Homo sapiens: one gene and its partners. The protein of the gene in region 1 interacts with the protein of each later gene in a pairwise test. Each region holds a gene or a part of one and is shown in the gene's direction. Other genes may lie near its edges.

Region 1 (7,031 bases):
CAGCCACAGTTGAGTCCATTTTGTACCCAGGCTGGAGTCACTGCGAATGGCCGCCACCTCTCTTTTTGCATAGCCAACACCGGCCTCTTAGGATCACCTGGGTCCTGTTGGCCGACTTGGAGGTGCTGCCTTTTCAATGACAAGGCGTTTGTTATGTGTAAAGAAAGGCGTTGAATTGGACGGTCTCCAGCTTCTGCCCAGCATGGAGCCTGCAACATTGTGTGGGAGTGGGGCTCCCATAGGGTAACAATGGCTCACCCAGCTCACCGTGCCCACTGTTTGCCAGCCATGGGGTCTCCTGCACACCCCATCATAGACGCAGGTGCTGGGCCGGCATCCCCCTTTCACAGGAAACCAGGCGTTGGGGCGAATGCCCTTTGCAGGGTCACTGCGTGTGGCCGAGCAGGCCAGGAACCCGGGCTTATCTCACTTTTAGTCCCTGGCATGAATGGCTAGTTCGTCCATCAAGTATTTTCAAATTGGTTGAACGATGGAGTTGCTGGTGGTCGTGGTTCTCCAAGATGCTTCCGATCATGGCATGTTGTTGTAGAGGAAGCTTAAAAGATACTGCAAGGTCCTGGAGGAAACGCCGATGTCTGGCTCAGTAACATCATCCAATGTTCCAGAATTCTTCTAAGTATCTCATGGGGAGGGGGCAGGGACTTAGGAAAGTCTCCAAACTGTGACACTTTTATTTCACTTTAATTAGGAAAAAAGAGATGCTGGGCTCCTTGGTGCCTGCATTCACGATTGGTGTCCCGATAGAGGCTGGGATGTTCCAGAGCCTTCCTGGGGCAGGGGGCCTGGCCAGGGCTTTGAAGGGCAAGGAGAGAGGGCAGGGCAGCCTGGCATGGTGCGGAAGGAACGGGGTAATGGCAGAGAGAACAAGTATGGGGGAGGGGAGCCAGTCCTGACCCCTGTGAAGTCACTCTGCTGTTAGGGGCCCTATAACAAAGTACCACAAACTGGGGGGACTCAGAGCAACAGAAATTTACTCCCCCACTACTGGAGGCCAGAAGTCTGAAATCAAGGCTTCGGCAGAACTGTGCTCCCTTGGAAACCTGCAGGGGAGACTCTGTCCTTGCCCCTCCTAGTTCCTGGAGGTTGCCACCATCCTTGGCTTTGCTGTGTAGACACAGTGCTGTAATCTTCCGTCCTCACGCGGCCCTCTCCCTATATGCGTGTCTGTCTACATCCAAATTTCCCCTCTTTATAAGGACACACCAGTTTGGTTGGATTAGGGCCCACCCTGATGGGCTCATTTGCAAAGATCCTATTTTCAAATCAGGTCCCCTTCACAGATCCTGGGGGCTGGACTTCAGCATCTCTTTTTGAGGGGCCCAGCGTGCTCTCAACTTGTGGTCTCTTGTCCTTCTCCTGAGATGCGTCAGGGTGTAAGGCATGGTTCCCCCACTTTGGCGATGAGATGTGGGGCCCAGAGAGGCCAGGTGACCTGTTCAAGATCACACAGGCAGCAGCTTACAGGATTCAATTCCGAGCCAGTTTCTGGAGAGGCCCGTGGCCCTCTCTCTCCTTAGGCCATGGACCCCATGCTGTGCCCTGCAGTGGCTGAGGAGACCCCAGCTCCAGAGTCTGCACAGGGCAGGGGGAAGAGAGAGCTCAGCCTGTAGGGGAGCTCTTTGCCACACCACGGGCCGCCCGCTGACTCTCCCTGGATGTATTTCTTTGCCCTTCTCCCCTTGACTGTTCCAGGGACTCTCGCATTCTCGTTGCACGGTTCGGCTGGCTCCTCAGCCGTTGGGCCTGGGATCCTGGAGGAAAGGCTTGGCCAGGTTTCGGAGGACACCCCCGAGGAGGTGGTTCCCCCACAGCCCTGCAGGAGAGAATGGGGGTTCTTTTTAAATCTAGACAGGTGGGGTACCAGGAGCCAAACTGATGTGGCTTCCCAACTGGAGAAACAGGTTTAATGATGCCCCATCTCTTCAAGGACTTGAAACCCTCTTCTTTTTTTGAGACGGAGTCTCACTCTGTTGCCCAGGCTGGAGTGCAGTGGCGCGATCTTGGCTCACTGCAACCTCCACCTCCTGGGTTCAAGCGATTCTCCTGCCTCAGCCTCCTGAGTAGCTGGGATTACAGGCACTCACCACCACGCCCGGCTAATTTTTTATATTTTTAGTAGAGACGGGGTCTCACCATGCTGGCCAGGCTGGTCTTGAACTCCTGACCTCATGATCCACCCGCCTCTGCCTCCCAAAGTGTTGGGATTACAGGCGTGAGCCACCACGTCTGCCCCTGAAACCCTCTTCTAACAGGACATCTGCACCTGTGGTGGCTTGGCTCTCTTCTCAGAATAGTGTTTTCAGATGCACAGAATAAAATGCAAAGGGTTACGAAGGAGGCCAGTTAAATGGAACCAAGTCCTTCTGGACCACCCTGAGTGAGGCAGCCCTGCAGTGTAGACTTGGAGAAAGGCAGGTAGCTGGAGCCCGGGCAGGCTGGCCCCGGGTGAACATGCGACGGGGCAGCTGGTTAGAGGGTTGAGAGCCCGCTCTGCTGTCTGCCAGGCGCACACCCCAGGGCCAGTGAGGAGATGAGAGTGAGGATAACAGCAGCGACAGCAGACAGCTCCGTCATGCTCCCCCCCAACCCAGGTGCTGTTCTCAGTGTCCCGTGACTGTCCCTGGAAGGCGTTCCTTTCACTGCTATTCACAGGCTGGAGCCAGGTGCCAGACTCCCGGCCAGTGAGCTAGAGCCGCAGGGTCTGTGCTCCGGCCCCTGTCCAGAGCCTGTCCCAACCCCAGGCACCATCAGGGCTTGCGGCTATCATCGCCAGGCAGCCCTCCCTGGCTGGGCTCCTGCCACTGCCTCTGGCTGCCACGTGCCTCAGACGGCTGCGCCTTCTTTCTCCGGCCAGCTCTGCCTGCTTCATCACAGCTCTGCGCTCTGCTGCCCTGGCCCAGGTGCTGTGCGCTGGCCTGTGCACTGCAGCTGTGATCTGGACTAAACGGCGCCTTTCCCTGTGGGCACTGCGGCCCTGGGGAGCAGCCTGGCTCCATCCTGTCTGTGTCCCTTGTCAGGCACAGGCTCCATATGCACTGTAGGCCATCCCAGTGGACTGGAGTTTCTCTGGCCCTTAGAGAGGGTGATGGCCCTGAGAAGGCAACCTACGGTCGGGGTTGGGGGAGTGGAGGCGGGAGACGTGACTGAGGAACTGGCAGGACCTGGGGACCAGGAGGATGGGCCTGCTCAGAGGGGATGTGAATCTGCCTGCCAGGGGCCTGAGGGGTCCCTCCCTAGGTGAAGGGACACAGAGGGGACAGGTCTCATTGGAGTTGTAGTGGGTCTGAGCTGGGGAGATGGGAGGGCGGGCGGTGGGATGTAGCAGGTAGCCAGGCGGAGTGCGAGAGCAGCCTGGGCTGGGGTCTCAGGGTCTTGGTGCTGCCCTTGTCCTGCCCCGGGCACTGTGCTGAGAGCCCCTGGGACCAATGAATCTGGCAGCACAATGGACAGGAATCTGACTGCAGAGAGGCCACGTCCCTCAGCTCTGAGCCACCCCATTCAGCTGGTCCTGTGGCCAGGGCTCCCTGCAGTCAGGATGCAGGCTCGGGGACAATTGTGAGGCCTGGAGATGAAGACCTCCGGGAAGTGGAGGCAGGGGATGAGCTGCAGTGACTAGTGTGGCTCTCCAGGCATCTGCAGCCTTGCAGAGACGGGGACGTGGTGGAGGTGTCGTCCCATGTCATAGGGAAGGAGTCTGTGGCTCAGAGAGGTTAAGGGGCTTCCAAGGTGGTGAGGCTGGTAAGCTGCGAAGGTGCAGAGCTGCAGGCAGAATCTGCACCCTGGGCCCTGGTGCTGGGGCCTGAGCGGCTTGCAGGGGGTGCATAGGGGCCCCCAAAGAGAAGGAGGGTTAGCCTCAGCATTCACGGCAGGGTGGCCGCCCGTCTCCCAGGTGACCATGCTGCACGGCTGATAGGACACTTTCTCACGTACATCTCCTGCTTCCCCAGGACCAGTGCCTGGGACGCCCTTGGTCTCCTATCACAGATGGGAACTGGGGACTGCATGGTGTTAGGGGACTCCAAGCCTAGAGTTCCTGAAGCGGGCAGGGCTCAGGAGGGCACTCTGCTGGAGGGTCTACCCAGTTGAGCTTCGGGACTGCAGCCTTAGGAAGCAGCAGAGCTCCCCAGTTCTTTAACCTTGTTGGCTGTAGGGTCTGTATGTGGCCAGGGGAGAGTCCCAGCCCCTCGCATCCTCCAGGCTGCTGGGAGGGGCGGTGGGGAGCGAGCAGCTCTGTGCATGTTCATACGATTACGGAGGCCCTGCCACGTGCTGGCACCTGGCATCCTCCCACCCGGCCAGGGAGCCCCATCGCTCTCTCTGCCTCTCTGGGCAGGCGGAGGGCCATCTGCACGCTGTTTTAGCTTTTTATTGATTGATTTATTTTGAGGTAGAGTCTCGCTCTGTCACCCAGGCTGGAGTTCAGTGGCACTATCTCAGCTCACTGCAGCCTCTGCCTCCTGGGTTCAAGCGATTCTCCTGCCTCAGCTTTCCTGAGTAGCTGGGATTACAGGTGCGCACCAACATGCCCGGCTAATTTTTATTTTTAGTAGAGATGGGGTTTCGCCCTGTTGGCCAAGCTGGTGTCGAATTCCTGACCTCAGGTGATCCACCCACCTCGGCATCCCAAAGTGCTGGGATTACAGGTGTGAGTCACCACGCCCAGCCCGTTTTGGCTTTGAGACATACTCTCGTCCCTGCCAGGCTCCCTGGCAGCCGGGTGAGTGCCTTCAAGGTCCAGGTCCAGTGTCATCTAGTGACCCATGCCCCGTGCCCTCCAGCCGGGGCAGGCTGTCCCCCTCCAAGCCAGCTGTCTTGCAGCTGTCGTGAGTTCATCTGTAAACACCAGCTGAACACCTACTGTGTGCTGGGGCTGTCTAGTGCTCAGCATACCATGGTGAAGAAAACCGAATCCCTGTCCCTGAGGACACTTAATTAACCACATGGGAAACCGCCGAGGGCGAAGGCCAATGGGGCTGCAGAGGTTCTGTCTTTCCTGGTCCCACGCAAAAGCAGGCTGGTGTCCATGCGACACTGCGTCCCAGCACTGAGCCCAGGGCTCAGGACACATTTGCTGAGCGGATGCTTGGCTGGTAGCTGATGCACCACCGCCGTGATGGGGCAGTGGGCAGCCCAACCCCACTTCTCACACATGTGTCTTAGTGGCCCGAGAGCTGCCTGGGCAACAGTGGGGCTTCTTCATATCTGTACCCTGAGCTCTCTATGCAGGACCTTGGGTACTAAAAATAACTAATTTAAAATGAATGTCACTTATGAATATGGTGAAAAATTAAAATGTTACCAAAAAATTGCCCAGTGAACAGTGATGCTTCTAACCTCTTGTGCCTAGCTGCCCTTACCAGGTTCTTCCAGAGATAGTCTCTGCACATGCTGTGTGGGGGGGGGCCTTCGTGTGCGGGTGTGTGTGTGTCTGTCCTGCTGCCTTCCGGCCACCCCTGACAGTCCCACCTCTGCCCACAGGTCTCCGTGTTGGTCCTCTTCGCCCTGGCCTTCCTCACCTGCGTCGTCTTCCTGGTTGTCTACAAGGTGTACAAGTATGACCGCGCCTGCCCCGATGGGTTCGTCCTCAAGGTAAAACTCCGTTTTCCCCCAGAGGCCCTGGGACGCCTTTGCACCCCATGTTCTCTCCCTTGAACTCAAGGCTGCTCCTGCCGTCTCCCCCAGCTGGCCCACGGACAGGCCTTAGAGCAGCAGGGGGCCAGTGTCAGGAGTGTCCCTGTGGAAGGCCCACCTGGAGAGCAGGGCAGGTAGGCAGGGGGCACATGAGACCCACAGGAAGGAAACTCCCGGACTTGGCCCCTGGGAGCTGACCTCAGCAGTCCGGGGAAGGGCCCTCCTCGAAAGTGGGCCCAGCCAGGGTCTGCCGTGGGAAATGCCCAGGATGATACCTACCGGATCCCAGCGGATTGCTCTGGGGGAGGGAGGGAGAGAGACGGGACCATGTCCGCCACATGAAAGAGGAGAGGATGTACTGGGGGAAGCCAAGTCCCACAGAGAGGAAGGCCTTGCCCAAGGCCACGCAGGGAAAGGGGAGCAGGGCTGGGGGGCACACCCACCCTCCTGACCTGTGTCCCTCTCCTGCCTGTCCCACCGCAGGAGCCACACTGGTGCTGGGCTCTCTACAGGCATGGAAATGCTCGCTTTGCATATATAATGCTCATTCCCAAAAGCCCACAAGTGACATGCAAGGCAACGGGATTAAAGGGAGGGGAGATAAGGGTGGAAAGAGAAGACGGAGCCAGGGGAGGCCTGGCCACGCATCACTTAGTGACGGGAATACGTCCTGAGAAACGCGTTGTTAGGCGACTCCATCATTGTGCCAGCCTCACAGAGTGTCCTGTACACCCACGCGGCCCAGCCTGCTACACACCCGGGCTGGAGGGTATGGCCGACTGCTCCTAGGCCACAAACCTGGACAGCATGTTGCTATACTGAACAATGTAGGCAGTTGTCACACGATGGTAAGTATTTGTGTATCTAAACATAGAAGAGGTCCAGTAAAAACACGTTATAACGCATGGTCCACCTGAATAGGGCATTTCCATCATGAATGCAGCTTGCAGGACCGGAAGCTGGTCTGGGTGGGTGAGTGAGGGAGTGGGTGGTGAGTGAATGCGAAGGCCGAGGCATGGCTGTGCACTCCTGTAGACGAGTGAGCGCTGGACATGTGGGCTACACTCCATTCATAACATACTCTTTCTTCAGTAATAAATTAACCTGAGCTCACTGTAACCTTTTTACTTCATAAACTTTTTGTGTGTGTGTGATGGAGTCTCACTCTGTTGCCCAGGCTGGAGCGCAATGGTGCGTTCTTGACTCACTGCAACATCTGCCTCCCGGGTTCAAGCGATTCTTCTGCCTCAGTCTCCTGAGTAGCTGGGATTATAGGTGTGCGCCACCACCCGGCTAATTTTTGTATTTTTAGTAGAGACAGGGTTTCACCATGTTGGCTAGGCCGGTCTCGAACTCCTGACCTCAGGTGATCCACCCAC
Region 2 (7,031 bases), on another chromosome or scaffold:
GTAGAATAGGAAAGCAGTAAGAGTCAAGAATGGAGCCCTCAGATCTCCAAAGTGGAGTATGCTAGGTGATCCATTTGGATGCCAGATGAATGTACTAGAAATTCCATTTATATCCTTTTTGTTTTTGTTTTTGAGACAGGGTCTCACTCCGTCACCCAGGCTGGAGTGCACTGGTGTGATCACAGCTCACTGCAGCCTCGACCACCCAGGCTCAAGCGATTCTCCCACCTCAGCCTCCCTAGTAGCTGGGACCACAGGCGCATGCCACCATACCCAGCTAATTTTTTGTTTGTTTTTGTAGAGATGAGGTCTCAAACTCTTGGGCTCAAGTGATCCTCCTCCTCAGCCTCCCAAAGTGCTGGGATTACACGCAGGTGTGAGCCATCGCACCCAGCCTCTATCTTTTTTTTTTTTTTTTTCCTTTTTTGAGACAGAGTCTTGCTCTGTCACCCAGGCTGAAGTGCAGTGGCACGATCTCGGCTCACTACAACCTCCGCCTCTGGGGTTCAAGTGATTCTTGTCCCTCAGCCTCCCAAGTAGCTGGGACTACTCTTGTTGCCCAGGCTGGAATGCAATGGCATGATCTTGGCTCACTGCAAGCTCCACCTTCCGGGTTCAAGTGATTCTCCTGCCTCAGTCTCCCGAGTAGCTAGGATTACAGGCATGCACCACCATGCCTGGCTAATTTTGTATTTTTTTAGTGGAGACGGGGTTTCTCCATGTTGGTCAGGCTGGTCTTGAACTCCCAACCTCAGGTGCTCTGCCTCTTGAGTAGCTGGGACTACAGGCATGCACCACCACATCTGTCTAACTTGTGTATTTTTTTGGTAGAGACGGGGTTTCACTATGTTCACCAGACTGGTCTCAAACTCCTGACCTCAAATGATCTGCCTGCCTCAGCCTCTGAAAGTGCTGGGATTACAGGCATGAGCCACCACACCTGGCCTCATTTTTGTATTTTTAGTAGAGATGAGGTTTCGCCATTATGGCCAGGCTGGTCTTGAACTCTTGGCCTCAAGTGATCCGCCTGTCTTGGCCTCCCAAAGTGCTGGGATTACAGGTGTGAGCCATCATGCCTGGCCTATTTTTATCTTATCTCTTTTTGAATAATAATGGTCAGGTATTTTGTAGACTGTCCCTCAATTTGGGTTTATCTGATGTTTTCTCATTATTAGATTGGGAAAAATACTACACAGGTATCTCATCCTTTTAAAAACTTTTATTTTTGTATGCTTTGTAATATAGCACAAATCAAATACATAATCTATTACTATAGTAGAAGTATATACTTTACATGGAGAGGATGAGAGGGACAGAGAGAAGAAAGAAGGGCTACTTTCCAATTTTGGGCTGACAGGGTTGAAATCTAAAAAGTTTGGCTACCACTGCTTTAAAGGACAGGAAGGGAAAGAAACAGAGGAGAAGCAGCCAAAGGGATTGCAAGGAAAACCAGGAGCCGTGGCTGCATGAAGACCAAAGCAGGGGCTTTTCAAGGAGGGAGTTGCCAGTATCAAATGCTTTGGGAAGTTAGATAAAATTAAGGGATGGAAATTGCCTTTTGAGTTTGGGGAGTCGTTTCAGTGGCATGGTGGGCTTGGAAGGTGTGGGCGGCCAGGTGGGGTGGCTCACGCCTGTAATCCCAGCACTTTGGGAGGCCGAGGCAGGCGGATTGTTTGAGGTCAGGAGTTCGAGACCAGTCTGGCCAACGTAGTGAAACCCTGTCTCTACCAAAAAAATACACAAGTTAGCCAGACGTGGTGGTGCGTGCCTGTAGTCCCAGCCACTCAGGAGTCTGAGGCAGGAGAATCTCTTGAACCTGGGAGGTGGAGGTTGCGGTGAGCTGAGATCCTTACCACTGCACTCCAACCTGGGTGACAGCAAGACCCTGTCTCAAAAAATAAAAATAAAAAAAATTTTTAAAATTTTGTGGGTTAAGTAGTAAACTTAAAATGAAGTATAGAAGCAAACGGTGGTTGACTGCTCTTCCTGGATTCTTCCTCTGAAGGGGAGCAAGGCTGGTAGCTGGTGGAGACTGGTAGGACCAAAGGAGGTTTTTTATGGTTTTAGTTATAGAATGGGAGTGCCTTGAGCGTATTTTTATGCTGAAGTGAAAGGGCCAGTGGAGAGGGAAAAAACTGGTGGTTTGAAGTGTGACTTCATTCATTCATTAACTCAACAAGTACTTATTGAGCACCAATGTGTCGGGCTCTGTTCTCAGCCCTGGGGATAGTGTGTGAACAAGACGCACTGAAATCCCCGCCTTCATGGAGCTTGTATTCTATAGGGCCATCTTTTGATGGCTATTACCATATAGCCACCTCACTCCTGATGTGTTGTCTGTCCTAGAAGAGTGGCTTCCTTAACAAACAGTGAAGGAACAAAGGTCCCTAAAAAGACTGAACACAGGATTGTCTTAGTCTGGAGGAGGGACATCCCTGCCCTCATGTCTGGAGGGAGAGGAGTTACAGATAGGGGCTTATGCAGATAAATTTGTGGTGGGGAGAGGAAGCAGGTAGCTCAAGAAATTCCTCTGTTTTCTCTGTGAAGCTGGAGATGAGGTTATCTGGTGAGACTGAGTTGGGGAGTGATAGCATAGGAAGTTGAAAGTTAGGAAGCCCATTTCAGTTCAGTACAAGGAAAAACTTTTCAAAGGACTAGAATGTTAGGAAAATGGAGCCAGTTGCTGGCAAATGTAGTTCGTATATTGAGGTGGTGTCCCCATCACTGGTAGTATTGAAATAGAGGAGGGGTGACTTTCTGCCAGGTATCCCTGAGACATGCTTATACTTATAATAAGCAGAAGTTTGGACAAATGACCTTCCTCTGTATAGGAGTCCCTGACTCTAAGGTTTTCTAAAGCTCTGGGCTTCTGAAGGACTGTTGTACAGGCATGGAAGTTGAAACTACGAAGCTGGGGCAAAGTTATTTGGTATAGGTTTGCCAGAATTGAATGAGTAGGGCCGTGTCTCAAAACAAGGGTATCTCCAAATCAAAATATGGTTTTTTAAATGTGTATGGTACCTGGGGCTGGGCGCGGTGGCTCACGCCTGTAATCCCAGCACATAGGGAGGCTGAGGCGGGCCGATCACTTGAGGTCAGGAGTTTGAGACCAGCTTGGCTAACATGGTGTCACCCTGTCTCTACTGAAAATACAAAATTTAGCCAGGCATGGTGGCACACACCTGTAATCCCAGCTACTTGGGAGGCTGAGGCAGGAGAATTGCTTGAACCTGGCAGGCAGAGGTTGCAGTGAGCCAATATTGTGCCACTGCACTCCAGCCTAGGCGACAGTGTGAGACTCTGTCTCAAAACAAACAAACAAAATATGTGTATGGTTCTTGGGAAGCATAGGTCTCTTGGTTCCCCATTTTTCTTAGTGTTTGCAGTACTACTACTTTAGTGAACCAAGATATCTATCAGTTACAAAAGACCATTCCATTCTGCTAATTTTTTTGGTCTGTCTTCAGCTAGAGCAGTTTGGACATTCCTGTTCTGACAGCTGTGCCGGATTGAAATTTGTAACTCCCGTGTATCAGCACCAACCTGAAGCCTTTTATTTACTGTCAATACTGCAACACCAAAACATTTACTGTTGCTTCCAACTTTATTTCCATCCCCTGTTAGTGGTACTTTCCTTAGGTCAAGAGAATAACACTGATTCTTTACTAAAGTCTAATTTTCCCATACTAGGTGTGGCTAACATTTGTTCTAGACTTGGAGCCCATTTTTTTAATAGGAACCCCAAATTAAAAAATCAGCCAGGCATGATGGCATGCATCTGTAGTCCTAGCTACTCAGAAGGCTGAGGCAGGAGGCTGAGGCAGGAAGATCACTTGGGCCCTGGAGTTTGAGGCTGCAGTGAGTCATGCAGACTCAAACTCAGCTTGGGTGACATAGCCAGACCCTGTCTCTAAAAAAATAACTAGGTACAAATTTCATCCTTAAATGTAAACAACCAATCGTGTTCACTTTGGTTGCCCAAAGACTACAAAAAGCTCAGGGGCTCTGCCCTTAGGCCTGGCAGTGAAGCAGTTCCCAGGCAGAGTTTCTGTTTTCAAGGGTGCTCAGGATTTGGAGAAAAGTTCCTTTCAGTAACTGAAATTAGCTACTTGTCCCTGTGTAAGCTAGACATCACGAGGTTAATAGATAATGGATGAAGAGGCCAAATACCTCATCCTTAGCTGTGGAGAGCTTATAAAATAGTCCCTTTATTCTCATCTTTATCTTTTAATCCTGAATCCTTAGACTAGTTGACTTTATCATTACAGAATACCTTTTCTTACCCTCTTGACATGTCAACTACAAATACTGTTTCCTGGACTTTGTTTCTAAAGTCTGAAGTGTTTTTATGTTTCTACTTGTGACATGTATGCCCCCCCCCCCCCCCAACATTTGACAGTCCTTATTTCACTAGGGTTGCCTATGGGACATAAGGAAAGATGTTACCTATCCTAAGACATAGTAACCTGGTAAAATCTTATAGTGAAATAATAGGAACTTTATGAATTTGCATTGTGTAGAAAGGATTGATGGTAGAAATAATTTAGAGATTTCAAGCTTCTTCCTTTTTAGTCTGTGCCTGGGCTTTGTTTTTTGTTTTTTAAATTTTGGAGATATGCCACTGATTTCTAATTCCTGCCAAATTGCCACATGCCTCTTTAAGAGCCATCAGTAGGAAGGTGTCTATATCATTAGGAAACCCTGTTTTGTAGTTGTACCTTTGTTGATCTCTTTTTGAGACTTTTGTTTGTTTCTTGTTCTTATCAGGCAGACCCTGAACCAGAATAGGTTCAGAGAGGCTCTGATAGTTGTACTTTTGTTCCAGCAGAATGTGTGGACTTAAATTCTTAGAGTGATACTTTGAAAAAGAATTTGTTATTGTTTAGGACTCAGCATTTTGACCAGTCATAATTTAATACGCTAAGTCAGTGGTGAATGGGGAAACATGTATTATATTTAATAATTGTCAAGGTAAATGATTTATGATGTTGATAATTCATTTACTGATCTGTTTTCTTTTCAGGTGTTTTGGGGAACGAGTTTAGTATATTAAAATCACCAGGGTCTGTTGTTTTCCGAAATGGAAATTGGCCTATACCAGGAGAGCGGATCCCAGACGTGGCTGCATTGTCCATGGGCTTCTCTGTGAAAGAAGTATGTATATATTTTTTAAATGTTTGGAGCTGCTTTTAAGAACATTTTTACTGATTTCTGCTAATAGCCCAAAAAAGCATCAAACGAACGTAGGTACGTTTGGTACAGATTACAAAAGTTAAAAAGCTCATCTGGACCAGGCACAGTGGCTCACGCCTGTAATCCCGGCACTCTGGGAGGCCGAGGTGGGAGGCTCAGTTGAACCCAGGAATTTGAGACCAACCTGGGCAACATAGTGAGACTCCCATCTCAAAAATAAATGAATTAATTTTTTAAAAACCCATTTGTAGTTGGGAAGATTTTGGATGAGTGCTTCAAGCTTGGCTTCTGAAACAAATCATTAGAAATCATTAACTATATAATTATTTATTCATAGTAGTGAAATTCTTTGTATATTAGAGAATGCATCTGTCCTACTCTTAATAGGATATCTACTTTCTGGTTTTTTTTTTTTAGTATAGGCGATAGATTCACTATGAATGATAAAATATATATGCATTATGCCTGAGGTTAGGAAAATAATGTGGTCAGTAGCCATGGGGCAGCCAAGGACCTTGGTTTCCTAGAATGGAGCTATGACCTGTTGTAGTAATTGGCTGCTTATGTGATTGTAGGGGGCGGGAGGGTCTAGATCCAGTCAATGTGAGAGATCGAAAGGTAAGGGCTCAGAAGAAAGGAAATACAGCTTGCTCGGTGCTATCATCTCCTTCTCTTTGTAAGTCTGGTGCTTTTGATGTGGTCTCTAGATATATATCATCAGTCACTGAAAGGAACTTTTCTCCAAATCCTGAGCACCCTTGAAAACAGAAACTCTACCTGGGAACTGCTTCACTGCCAGGCCTAAGGGCAGAGCCCCTGAGCTTTTTGTAGTCTTTGGGCAACCAAAGTGAACAGGATTGGTTGTTTACATTTAAGGATGAAATTTGTACCTAGTTATTTTTTTAGAGACAGGGTCTGGCTGTGTCACCCAAGCTGAGTTTGAGTCTGCATGACTCACTGCAGCCTCAAACTCCAGGGCCCAAGTGATCTTCCTGCCTCAGCCTCCTGCCTCAGCCTTCTGAGTAGCTAGGACTACAGATGCATGCCATCACGCCTAGCTGATTTTTTAATTTTTTGTAGAGACAGGGTCTCGCTATGTTGTCCAGGCTGGTAGGTCTTTAACTCCTGGCCTCAAGCAATCCTTTCTGCGTCAGCCTCCCAAAGTGCTGGGATTACAGGCACGAGCCACCACACCCAGCCTGTACCTAATTCTTTTTTTGTTTTGTTTTGTTTTGTTTTTTGCTACAGGGTCCCGCTCTATCACCCAAGCTAGAGTGCAGTGGCCTGATCTCGGCTTACTGCAACCTCCACCTCCCAGGTTCAAGAGATTCTCCCACCTCAGCCTCCCCGGTAGCTGGGACCACAGGCGTACAACACCATGCCCAGATCATTTTTATATTTTTTGTAGAGACAGGATTTTGCCATGTTGCTCAGGCTGGTCTTGAACTCCTGGACACAAGGAATCTACCTGCTTCAGCCTCCCAAAGTGCTGAGATGACAGGCGTGAACACCACACCTGACCATCTAGTTCTTTACAACCTTAAACTTGACTACTGATGGCTATTAAAATAACTGAGAAATAATTATTAGTAAACTAATGATAGTTACTTTTAGTAGGAATTGTTTTATTTATAAAGATCTTAGTCTAAAGAGGATGTTTTAATGACCATCTTGCTATGTCTCTGTGAAAGATAAAAGTGATGCTGTATATGAGGGCAAAAAATGATGTGGGGGAAGAAAATTTCCATGGCTACATGAAGAAAATATTTTGTGATCTGAAATTTGAAAGGTACCTATGTTTTGTTTACTTGCTTGCTTTTTTCCACAAAAGGTGTCAG
Region 3 (6,314 bases), on another chromosome or scaffold:
ACGGAATGGAAAGAGAGAGAACCATTTGATTTGGCAGATTATGAGCTCTTTTGTGGACTTGATCAAAGCAGCTTCAGTGGATTGGTGGGGACTAAGCCAGATTAGAAGAGGTTGAAGAATTGGCTGGGCGAGGTGACTCATGCCTGTAATCCCAGCACTTTGGGAGGCAGAGGCAGGCAGATCACCTGAGGTCAGGAGTTTGAGACCAGCTTGGCCAACGTGGTGAAACCCCATCTCTACTAAAAATTAAAAAATTAGCTGGGTGTGGTGGTGGGTGCCTGTAATCCCAGTTACTCAGGAGGCCGAAGTGGGAGAATCGTTTGAACCCGGGAGGCAGAGGTTGCGGTGAGCCGAGATCGCGCCACTGCACTCCAGCCTGGGTGACTGAATGAGACTCCATCTCAGAAAAAGAAGAGATTGAAGAGTCCATTAAAGATGAGGGAGTGGAGACAGCAGGTGTAGATGACCCAGAGTTGCCCGTCTACTCTAGAATGATGCGCATCTATGAGTTCTCTCCCTTGTCATTCTTGAGGTCAGGGACCGTGCCGTGGTGATTTCTGAGTCATAAATGGAGTCCAGCCAGTGCGTAGCAGGAGCTCAGCACGTTTATGTCATGGATGAATAAATGGGTGAATGGATAATGCATTGTTTGGGTCAAAATGGCCTTTACTAGTAGAGATAGCTTAATGTTTTTGAAGCATTTGAGGAAACAAAAGAAAGTCAACCCCAAAGGCCATAGGTTCTGTGTCCCTTCTCCCAGCTAACCTCAAGGAGCAGTTGCCTGTGGGCCTGGGGCACGAGCCCTGGCCCAGCGTCGGGAACCAGGTTATTTATTTATTGAGACAGAGTCTCGAGTGTCACCCAGGCTGGAGTGCAGTGGTGCGATCTTGGCTCACTGCAACCTCCACCTACCGGGCTCAAGTGATTCTCCTGCCTCAGATTCCTGAGTAGCTGGGACTATAGGCACGTACCACCATGCCTAGTTAATCTTTTTTTTTTTCTTTTTCTTTTTGAGATGAAATTTCACCCTGTCACCCAGGCTGGAGTGCAGTGGCGCAATTTAGGCTCACCGCAACCTCTGCCTCTTGTGTTCAAGCAGTTCTCCTGTCTCAGCCTCCCGAGTAGCTGGGGCTACAGGCGCATGCTACCGCACCCGGCTTATTTTTGTATTTTTAGTAGAGACGTGGTTTCACCATATTGGTCAGGCTGGTCTTGAACTCCTGACCTCAGGTGATCCACTTGCCTCGGCCTCCCAAAGTGCTGGGATTATAGGTGTGAGCCACCGCGCCCAGCCTTTTTTTGGATTTTTAGTAGAGAGGAGATTTCATCATGTTGGGCAGGCTGGTCTCGAACTCCTGGCCTCAAGTGATCCACCCATCTTGGCCTCCCAAAGTGCTGGGATCATAGGTGTGAGCACCGCGCCTGGCCCAAAAACCACATTACTGAGTCCCTTCTGCTGCCTCTCACATGCCTTGTGGCTTTGGATAAATCCCTTCCTTTTTCTTAGAAGTGATCTGCATGGCGGCTCACACCTGTCATCCCAGCATTTTGGGAGGCCAGGGTGGGAGAATCACTTATGCCCAGGAGTTTGAGACCAGCCTGGGCAACATAGCAAGACTCCATCTCTGCAAAGAAAAAAAGAAGTAGGCTGGGCGCAGTCGCACACGCCTGTAATCCCAGCACTTTAGGAGGCCGCGGAGGGCAGATCACTTGAGGTCAGGAGTTTGAGACCAGACTGGCCAACATGATGAAATTCCGTCTCTACTTTAAAAAACTACAAAAATTAGCCAGGCATGGTGGCATATGCTTTTGATCCTGGCTACTCGGGAGGCTGAGGCAGGAGAATCGCTTGAACCAAGGAGGCAGAGGTTGCAGTGAGCCAAGATCGTGCCACTGCACTCCAGCCTGGGCAACAGACAGAGACTCCATCTAAAAAACAAAACAAAACAAAACAAAAAATAGGCAGGTGTGGTGGTGCACGCCTGTGGTCCCAGCTACTTGGGAGGCTGAGGTGAGAGGATCGCTTGAGCCCAGGAGGTCGAGGCTGCACTCCAGCCTGGGTGACAGATAGAGCAATATCCTGTCTCAAAAAAAGGGAAGCCATCAGCGCAGCACAGGGGAAGCAGCCCACGTGAGCCAGTCCCATAGATATTCGTTTCCCTCCTTCCCCACCCCCGCCCCGCTGCCCCCTTTTTTTCTCTCTCTGGGCTTTTTACTTGTTTAGGAACTCGAAGCGGTTCATGGCAAGTACCCCGAGTCCTAGCCCACCTGCTCTCTGCATAGGGTTGCGGCAGAGCACCTCACACGCGCAGATACACGCCTGGCTTTAGGGGAAGTCGCGGCACTGGGTCTGCAGAGTCCGCTGAGCACGCACCTTCGTTGTGAAACTAAGGAAACCCTGGAGTGTCCTTGGGCTTGGGTGGGATGGAACATGCCCGTGACAGACAGGCCCACCTGCCAATCAGAAGGGCGCTCTCCTTAGCTGGGATGGGGCCGCAGGAGTGGAAATGGCTGTTGGGAGGTGGCAGAGATGGGAGATGGGGTGGCCACGGGGGAGCCGCCGGCCACAGAAGAGGAAACGGAGGTGCAGGGAGCGGAGTCTGCGAAGGACGCGTGGATGGCCAAGAGATGTGCCTCGGAAAGGGCCGAGGGACTTCCTCTGACCAACCCCCGACGGCCATTCCCAGCCATCCGTTTTCCTGCAGCCGCGGATGCAACCTGTGGAAGAGGCGGGAGGAGGCCCGGGAGTCCGCCCCGCTGCGCCTTTCCTAGGGTGGGAGCGTGGACTCAGGCGCGGCCGCTGCTGCCACCTAGTGGGAGACGCCTGCTACTCCTCTCGGTTCCTAACCCCAGGGTCGTTCCCGGCTGAGCACTAAGGAGGGGGCGGGGGAGGACGGAGAGAGCCCTGTGCCCCTGGATCTGCGGATAGGATGCAAGGGGGAGCCTCAGAGAGGAACCCCCCCCCCAGGAAGTGTGCATTGCCCACACTACTTTTCCCCTCTGTGCCGTGATTTCCTCCCGTGTATAAGGGAGGCAAGAGTACCTGCCTCTGGGCTGGGCTTGGTGGCTCACGCCTGTAATCCCAACACTTTGGGAGGCCGAGGCAGGCGGATCATCCGAGTTCAGGAGTTCAAGACCAGCCTGGCCAACATGGTGAAACCCCATCTCTACTAAAAGTACAAAAATCAGCCGAACAGTGATGGTGCGCGCCTGTAATCCCACTCCAGGAGGCTGAGGCAGGAGAATCGCTTGAACCCAGGAGGTGGAGGTTGCAGTGAGCTGAGATTGTGCGTCTGCACTCCAGCCTGGCGGACAGAGTGAAACTCCATCTCAAAAAAAAAAAAAAAAAAAAAAAAAAAAAAGAGTACCTGCCTCTGAGGGTCAGTGCAAGAGCAAATGAACAAATTTGTGCAAGGTACTTGGCCATAAATGGGGTCCAGCCAGCATAGTAATAGGTGTTCAATAAATGCTACCTGCTGGGCATGGTGGCTCATGCCTGTAATCCCAGCACTTTGGGAGGCCGAAGCTGGAGGATCACCTGAGGCCAGAAGTTCGAAACCAGCCTGGGCAACATAGCAAGCCCTCATTTCTACAAAAAATGCAAAAATTAGCCGGGCATGGTGGCACATGCCTGTGGTCCCAGCTACTCAGGAGGCTGATGTGGGAGGATCACTTGAGGCCAGGAGTTCAAGGCTGCAGTAATCATACCACTGTACTCCAGCCTGGGTGACAGAGTGAGACCCTGTCTCTGAAAATACATAAAATAGGCCGGGCGCTTTGGGAGGCCGAGGCGAACAGATCACCTGAGGTGAGGAGTTCAAGACCAGCCTGACCAACATAGTGAAACCCTGTCTCTACTAAAAATACAAAAATTAGCCGGGTGTGGTGGCAGACAGATAAAAGGAAGGGATTTATCCAAAGCTGTAATCCCAGATACTCAGGAGGCTGAGGCAAGAGAATCACTTGAACCCAGGAGGCAGAGGCTGTAGAGAGCCAAGATGGCGCCACTGCATTCCCACCTGGGTGACAGACAGAGACCCTGTCTCCAAAAAAATGAAAATAAATAAAACAAATGTTACCTGTGGTTGATCCAAGGGGTAACCGGAGGTGTGTGGCCCTGTGCCACCACCCCAAATTGTGCCTGTTGTCCAAACACAGCTTCCTTTAGTTCGGGCTTTCAGCAAGATGGCCGTGCCGCATCCCTCCTCTTTGTAAATGCTGGGGCTGCCACCATTATGGTTTTATCATCAGCGACATTCCAGGGGGTGAAGACTGGTCCCAACCTCTCTTCTCCTCTCCTCTTCTGATGAGAGTGAGGGATGGGGGAGGGGTCCCAGCTCCTAGCACTTTCTCCCCTCACCCCAAAGTGCCATCAGAACAGCTCTGGGCTGTGACATCACAGAGCCCCCACCTCATGATAGGAGTCATGAGGCTGTGGCCATGGGTGCTGGTGTGGGTGTGGCTGGCTGCACTAGGGGCCATAGAAACTGGTAAGAAGCTGTCTTGGGAGCAGCAGGAAGGCAGGCAGCTCTGGGAGCATAAAGTGTGATGCCCACTTAGGGACTCGGAAGCCAACCCTGCACCCTCTCATTTTCTCTCCACTCTTCTCTCCCATCCTGCTGGTCCCACCTACCCCCCAACAACCGCGAGCCTTGTCGTGGTGCACCCAGCTGACCCTGAGGGAAATCAAGACCCTCCACAGCCTCTGCAATAAGGCTGGGTGGTCTCACAGGGTCCCAAGTCAGCTTCCGCCTCGAGAGATAAAGGCAGGGGTCAGCTTGGCTGTTGTCACAGAGTTTGCTTGGGTCCTAGCACCCAGACCCAAGCGTGCCACGGCGTCAGCCCTGGGGACAGAGTCTCCGCGCTTCTTAGACAGACCTGACTTCTTCGATTATCCGGACTCAGACCAAGCCAGGCTGCTGGCTGTGGCCCAGTTTATTGGAGAGAAACCCATCGTGTTCATTAACTCAGGTATGAACCAGCTTGAGAAGGGACCTCCCTCCCCGCCAGGGTCTGGAGGAGAGCAGCCCCAGACCCTTCATTGGGCCATCAGAGGGGAGTTAAGGGTCCTGTTTGTCTAGCAGGTTCCAGCCCCGGGCTCTTCCATCACATCCTGGTGGGCTTGCTGGTGGTGGCGTTCTTCTTTCTCCTTTTCCAGTTCTGCACCCACATGTAAGGCCTGCCCCCTTTCTCCAACCCCACCCACCACCACCTTCCTTGGGAGCGGCTGAAGACCCCAGTTCTAGCGGGGCAGGCTGTGACCTCTCCCCTCTGATCTCCATGCCCCACAGAAACTTCCAGAAAGGGGCCTAAAGAGCCGGACAAGGGCTCTGGACTCAACCTGAGCACCCACACCCACCTCCTCTCCTGTTGATGAGCAAAAGTTCCCTGCTTTCCTCCTCCCTGACTGCCCAGCGAGCAGCTGGGGATCCTGTCCCCTCTGTTTCCCATGGCCCAAGCCCCCCACCTCCTCCCTTCCCAGCCCCAAAGAACTTGGTGGCAAGGGCCTTGGTGGCGTTCACGCAGATCGTCTTTTATTAGCGGTCTGTAAAGCACCTCCCAGGGTCCCCCGACCCCAGATTGGAGGAAGCCTTGAGAGGTCAGTAGCACCAGGGACATGGCAGGGCCCGAGGGCGCGATGTGCAGCCGATGGTGAGGGACTGGGCGCCCTCGCCTGCCCCCGGGGTTGTCAGCACTGGGAAGGCTTGGGGGTAGCAGCCACCTCCTTCCCCCAACCCAACAGACTAGTTCAAATTTGGGTAAATAAATAAAATAAATAAGATTCCTCAAGCTGGCCTACCCTGGAGAGGAGCCGTGGTTGCAGCCGGCCACTCGGGAGGCCCGAGGGCCAGCGGGGGTTAGTTGGGGCGTCCTCTCCTCTCGGGTGATGGGGAGCCCTGGGGGATGGCAGCATAGGGGCTGGGATGGCCTTGGCAGAGGCGTCTCCCCACATTCTGACTCCTGGTCCCCTTGAAACCCTGTTGGTGTCCCTCCCCACAAGCCCTCCTGCCCTCAGTGGGTGGGAGGCGGTGCCCCCTCCCCTCCTCCAGCGCAAGGGTGTGCAGGAAGGGGGCAGAGTAGGGGGAAGAGGTCCCCTCTCTCCACCCCCTCAGTCCCCGAGAGATGGGGCCTCTTCCCTTTCGGGGTCATCGTCAGTCCTGGGGTTGTCCGGGCAAGAGGACCCTGGCTCCCAACCCCAGCCATCAGCCCCAGAGCCCTGTCTCCACGGGGGTGGGGGTGGGGAGGGGGAGGGTCCCGGCCCCCGGCCTCAGTCCTGGGCCTGGCAGGCCGGGGGCGGCCGGGAGCGGGGCCAG

The links.
Region 2: the proteins of NSG1 (region 1) and ATP6AP2 interact in binary tests that used the Homo sapiens proteins (3 or more experiments, as listed by UniProt).
Region 3: the proteins of NSG1 (region 1) and C16orf92 interact in binary tests that used the Homo sapiens proteins (3 or more experiments, as listed by UniProt).

The regions. Positions count from the first base shown.
Region 1 is NC_000004.12:4,404,074-4,411,104, forward strand, and holds part of NSG1 (neuronal vesicle trafficking-associated protein 1), read left to right. Parts: intron 1-5,499; coding exon 5,500-5,610; intron 5,611-7,031.
Region 2 is NC_000023.11:40,583,963-40,590,993, forward strand, and holds part of ATP6AP2 (renin receptor precursor), read left to right. Parts: intron 1-5,023; coding exon 5,024-5,154; intron 5,155-7,031. UniProt on the Homo sapiens protein: Multifunctional protein which functions as a renin, prorenin cellular receptor and is involved in the assembly of the lysosomal proton-transporting V-type ATPase (V-ATPase) and the acidification of the endo-lysosomal system.
Region 3 is NC_000016.10:30,018,915-30,025,228, forward strand, and holds C16orf92 (fertilization-influencing membrane protein isoform 1 precursor), read left to right. Parts: upstream 1-4,283; 5' UTR 4,284-4,426; coding exon 4,427-4,490; intron 4,491-4,732; coding exon of another isoform or gene 4,733-4,812; coding exon 4,813-4,971; intron 4,972-5,081; exon of another isoform or gene 5,082-5,084; coding exon 5,085-5,172; intron 5,173-5,291; coding exon 5,292-5,313; 3' UTR 5,314-5,790; downstream 5,791-6,314. Other genes in the region: TLCD3B (ceramide synthase), read right to left, coding at 6,269-6,314. UniProt on the Homo sapiens protein: May play a role in sperm-oocyte fusion during fertilization.